2 separate regions of the Homo sapiens genome follow, and region 2 is linked to region 1. The links come from fine-mapping of genetic effects on gene expression. A gene starts in region 1. The other region holds a variant in brackets. All regions are shown on one strand. Distances are between the middles of the regions. Region 1 holds the start of CRYBG1 (crystallin beta-gamma domain containing 1). Region 2 overlaps CRYBG1 (crystallin beta-gamma domain containing 1).

The links. PIP is the estimated chance that this variant, and not a neighbour inherited with it, causes the effect.
Region 2: its variant is fine-mapped to the expression of CRYBG1 in whole blood (TOPMed, PIP 0.93).

The regions. Positions count from the first base shown.
Region 1 is chr6:106,359,517-106,362,430 of GRCh38, reverse strand. CRYBG1 (crystallin beta-gamma domain containing 1) reads right to left here and starts at 1,714. Exons shown (of 22, transcript NM_001371242.2): 1 at 1,350-1,714. The coding sequence starts at 1,522. RefSeq lists silencers at 1,604-1,683, 1,704-1,913 and an enhancer at 842-1,708.
Region 2 is chr6:106,536,884-106,539,797 of GRCh38, reverse strand. It overlaps CRYBG1 (crystallin beta-gamma domain containing 1), which reads right to left. Exons shown (of 22, transcript NM_001371242.2): 9 at 269-395. Among named protein-coding and RNA genes, the nearest start is that of RTN4IP1, 91 kb to the left of the region's middle. The variant C/T (reference allele first, on the strand shown) is at 1,449.

The DNA.
Region 1 (2,914 bases):
TTTTTGGTATCCACAAGAGACTAACAATTCTTTGATGACACAATTATTCCTGTCTCTCATTGTTTTTTATATCGCAGTACATGGCACTTAGCTAAGGTACTCAATACAATAAGTGAATGAAAATAGATCGTAAAATTGACTTTTTTTACAAATAAAAGGAGAGGCCGGGCGCGGTGGCTCATGCCTGTAATCCCAGCACTTTGGGAGGCCGAGGCGGGCGGATCATGAGGTCAGGAGATCGAGACCATCCTGTCTAACACGGTGAAACCCCGTTTCTACTAAAAATACAAAAAATTAGCCGGGCGTGGTGGCGGGCGCCTGTGGTCCCAGCTACTCGGGGGCTGAGGCAGGAGAATGGCGTGAACCCGGGAGGTGGAGCTTGCAGTGAGCCGGGATTGGGCCAGTGCACTCCAGCCTGGGTGACAGAGCAAGACTCCGTCTCAGAAAAAAAAAAAAAAAAAGAAAGAAAGAAATAAAAGGAAAACCATGTCTAAAATGCAAATTTTGCACAATTTTATTCTGGCCCTCATAGGGTGTATTTTAAAAACACATTTGGAAGGATTTACTGGACATTGTCAATTGTCCATCACTATAAATATTTCACACCTCTGAGCCATGTAAATACGCTGTTACTTCAAATTGATTATTATTCAACGAATGCATAAACTCTGATGCTATAGTTGAATAATTATACATATAGAATAAAACCACTTCAAAACCATGATAAAAATCAAAAAGCACAATGGTAACTACAGTTTTGATAACTAGGTGCTCTCTAGCTCTGCCACTGGCTCCAATGGGGAGAAGCCATTTATCCTTTGGTCTCAGTTCCTCCACCCATGAAATGGGGGTAACCATTCCTGCCACTTCCTCCTCCCTTCGTATGTTGCGAGGAGAATGGGGGTATAACATCTGTAAGAGCACAGATCTTACAGATATTCACAATAAAGAGCTTTACAATAAAGACACTAGCTCAAAAGCAGTGCCTAACCCCAAAGCAGAGTTCCCGCCATCATTTAGGACGGTAACAACCCTCACTCCCCGCCGCTCTGGTTAGCAGGCTGATGCGGGAGGCTCCTGCATGAAAACTTTGCAGTCATACTAAAGGCCACATGCGTGGGCACAAGTTCCTCTCGCCGGTGCTTGGTCTGAACCAAAAGCCGCGAGGAACCTCGTCAACCCCAGCGGCTACGATCGCTCCCCTCCGGACCCGGGTACCCTCCTGCGGACTGAAACAGACCCCGGGGCTTTCCCCTCCTCCAAGTGGGGTCAGGAGTCCAAGGGCTAGCGCAGCAGGAGAAGGAGGAGGAGGAGGAGGTGGGACTGGAGGGCTCGGGCGAGGAGCTCACCTGGCCTCTCCGGCAGGCGCCGGGAGCGGGTGCGGAACGAACACCCCACAGTCAGGCGGCGCCGGCTGCTGCTTCTTTTTGGAGCGCCAGAGGTGGAAGGTGGTGTGCTTCTTAGGGGGCCTGCACGGGCTGGGCTCCCCGGGGTCGCCCTGGGCTGGCGGGGACAGCGGCATCGTCTTGTCCTCCTCCCGCTCCGACTGCCGGGACGCGGTCCTCTCTGCCGCCCGGGCCCTATGGAAGAACACACCTGAGCGCCAGCTCGCCCGCCTTTCTCAGCGCGCCGTGGGACCCCGCCCCCTCGTCGCGGATGCGGGGGGACGGCCGCGGGTTGCAGAACCAGCACCCAGCGCAGCGCGAGCAGCACTGCAGCCCGAGCTGTTGGGGCGGAGGCGGGGACCCAGCCGCGGAAGAGCGCCCCCGCGCGGCGCGGGCGGCAAGGGGCGCTAGCCCAGGTGAGGCGCTCGCGCCGGGAGCCCCAGGTGAGGCAGACACGCCCCGGCTCCCCACCCCGGGGGCGCGCGGCGGCCGTGGGACAGCGACACCTACTGGATGCTCTGGGCACCGCGACTCCCGACACTGCATCCCAGGCTCTAAGATGGGACCCAGAGCCGGGTCGGGCTTCCACAGCGCCTGGGGTGCAGCGGCCATTGTCGCCTGCGGAGTTGTTGGCCGCTCTTGGCCTGTGACAGGCTGGCAGGGTGAGTCGCTGCTTAGCCACGAGCCCCGCCTGGAGAAGGATGGGAGAGGCACATCCCGGGGCTGGGCCGCCCAGCAATTAGGACTCTTCCACTCTGATCTCTGGGTGGCTTGGGCAATGTCATGTGCTGGTGGCTTCTGTTCCTGTTCGTGAACACGGGTGGCAACTCCGCCAACTCGTCTCCTCTCTCAAGAGTCTGAATAATTAATTTGTACTCACATCTCATAAAACACAAAAGGATTAAAAAAATTAAAAACGCCAGAAGGGAATTAGGCATATTCCCCAATTCCCCAAGAGCTTAATAGATCCCTCGCAGTAAATTAAATGCCAGTCCCACAAGGTATTTACATCATCTGCATTACTGTTGATGACTTTCTTGTCTTAACTTCACAGTCGTGGCTAAATAGCAAAGGAAATTAATACTTAAGCAAAGTAAGTAAACGAACAATTATTTTGGGCATCATTAGAGCAAAGAAAGTGCAAGAACTAAGCACTACTTAAAAATTCAATGCAGTACAAGATCCTCTTTCACGGTAATGTCTTTATTTTCCTCTTTGAAAACACAACTCATTCATTCGTTTATTCACTCATTCAAGGAACATTCATTTTTATTTGTTTTTATTTACATTTTTATCAAGATGTAATTTATAGACAGTAAAATGCACAAATCATAAGGGTAAAACTCAAATTTTTACATATTTATGTGGTTGGGGTGTGAAAAGTTTTTTAATGGAGAGTTGACATTGTCCTAGAAAATTCTTCCGTATGTGGCTTTTAAATGTATGATTATAGGCCAGGAGCGGTGGCTCACGCCTGTAATCCCAGCACTTTGGGAAGCCGAGGCAGGCAGATCACTTGAAGTCAGGAG
Region 2 (2,914 bases), 180 kb before region 1:
CTGAAGCTTTGCGCACCCATCTGCAGCTCTGCAGGGCTGAGAATGCCTTAAAGACAAAGGACATAGTCTTACCTGCCTTTTTTTTTTTTTTTTTAATCTATAGCATCTAGCAAGTTATTCTTTCCATGATTTCTATTGAGCAATAGGTCCAATCTACTACAAATTTGTTTCTTAAAAGTCAGCTTTATTGCTTCAAAGTCACACCCTGTGAATTACCACGTCAAGCTGACAAAGAATCACCACAAGGACATTTGGATTTCATTTTTACCATTTTCAGAGGCCGCATGGATCCAATGTACGCTTCTTCTGTATCCCAGAAGGACAAGTCAGGGTATTCACCAGGTTCCAGGATGAAAGGAACACCCTGAAATCCAGGTTCTTCATAAATCAGCCACCTAAATAGCCACCATGGAAGGAAAGAAAGGGAGCCGACTCATCATTTGTTTCAGTTTTTCCTTCTGTCTGGTACCCAGGATGAGAGGAAAAGAACAGGAGAGGATACGGACCTACATAATGAATGGTTGGACTCAGGTGTTAGAATCACACTAGACTCAAGGAAAAATAAAGCCATTATATGCCCCTATTCTTGATCTTTTACTTTTCTCCTTGGCTGGCTTTGTCCCCTTATTTTAATTTGTATTATTAATTGCTCCAAAGTTCCATCTAATCATTTGTCATGGTGCCAAACATTAGTAACAGCTAACATCTCCCTAGAGCTTACAAGGAATGCCACTGAGAACTTCATCTAATCCTCACAACCATGCTATGAGGAAGAGAAGCTATTGTCCCCATTTTATAGATAAAGTTAAGTAAGTTGCCCAAGGCCACACAGCTATAAGTATGAAAGGCTGGAATGATTCAAGCCGATTCCAGAACCAGGTTCCTAATCAATTTTTTTTTTTTTTGACGGAGTCTTGTTCTGTCACCCAGGCTGGAGTACAGTGGCTTGCTCTCAGCTCACTGCAACCTCTGCCTCCTGGTTCAAGTGATTCTACTGCCTCAGCCTTCCAAGTAGCTGGGAGTACAGGCACACACCACCACATCCGACTAAGTTTTGCATTTTTTTTTTAGTAGAGGGGGTCTCACCATATTGGCCAGGCTGGTCTCAAACTCCTGGCCTCAGGTGATCCGCCCGCCTTGGCCTCCCAAAGGTGCTGGGATTACAGGTGTGAGCCACCATGCCCAGCCCTAATCATTTTTGTGATGGCAATTTTTCTCATTGCAGGAAGTGCATTGAACACAGTTTACTCTTTTCACAGTTACTCAGGATCATCACTGTGAGCATTATTTAATGCACAGTGGTGTCCTCAGGGGCTCTGAAGTTCTGTGGGGCTGCTTGTTCCCAGGCCACAAAGCTTTTTGAGTTCTTGGTTCTGATTGTTATGGCTTTTCAATACCACACCCTTCTATCAGCTTGTCAGCTGTCACTTCTGCTTCAGTTGGGGAAC[C/T]AGCAGCCCCACCCTCCTCTAATGTGCCAGAAATCAGGAAACCAGAAAACCATGCCTACTAGCCCTGTCTCTAAACTTTACAAGGTCTTCTTGTAAACATCTTCGTTCCTGGGAAGGGTTCTGAGAAGGTGAGGATGCTGAAGAAGTGACTTTTCTATAAGAGAGGGGTTAATGTACCTGCTTCATAAACAAACATAGACTTCTTAGTGATCACTTACACTCATCAATTCGGTTAGTTTTGCTAAAATGTTTTAGCCGTGGTACTCCACCATGTTGTGTTCCCCAGAACACCATGCCAAGAAGAGAGTGGCTGTAAATGAAATCTTTTACCAACAAAACGGGTCTGACCCCTCCCTCTTTGCTTTTTTCTTCTTCCCAATTTTGGCCCAAGGCACATTTTTGGCGGTGGTTTTTGTGAAGATTCCGCTGGATAAACTGGTAACTTCTCTAGACTCTCTAATTATACAGAGATTTACAACCAGGCTCCTACTGATGATTTGACAACACACACATGAAAGAATGTTGGGAGGCCAGGTGTGGGATATGGGTAGGAGGTCAGAACTACAGTGTTAGAAGTCAGGATGATGGTTCCTGGGGAAGAGGGCGTGAGGACGCATGAAAGAAACGGGTTTCTGCGATGCTGGGAATGTTCTTTTTCTTGATCTGAATGGTGACTGCGCTTGTGTATTCACTTTGTGAAAATTCACTCAGCTTATATATTTAGGGTTTATGTACCTTTTTGTACAAATGTTATGCTTCAAAAAAAGTTACCTTAAGGAAAAAAAGAGGCTTATCTTTTAAATACTACTGTAATGCTTCTAAACCACAAGAAAACAGACGCTAAGAATAGGGTACTTTACACTTCCTTATGTTTAAAGCATGACAGCCAAGGATACGTTACATGTATTTTGGAGCTCAAAGCTATCACAGGCACAGTACCCATGGATTTTGTTCTCTAACAAAATAATGGCAGTTCTGTAACACATTATGGTATTAGGCTAACCAAGCAGGTCCCAAGTCTGACTTCTTTACAAGTGAACAGGTTTAATTTTTCAAAAACTGAATGTACGGCTCACGAGCAAGCGATCTGAGATTTTGAAATGATTCTTACCGAAGTACCCTTTTCATTAAGTCTTTCCTTCTATAGCTTGAGTTCAGAGGGGATTTATTCATCTAATACTAAACATTTCACTTCTGTTGAAGCATGTGGTTTAGTTGCATAACATTCATGGAAGGAAAGTCATTCTGGGTAGAGGGGAATTTGTGAAAAAACCGAAAACATGAATGAATGCATTTGAAAAGACTGCTGTTCTGAAAGTTCTCCCTTAGTAAATGAGTGCTGAAGGCCTGCTGGGTAATTCAAACAGACATTTATTAATGCTGGGTGGACTTTGAATTTGAAAACTCATATGCAGAGTATGATTCACTTTTTCTAAATTCTGTTCCAATAAGATACATTATTTATG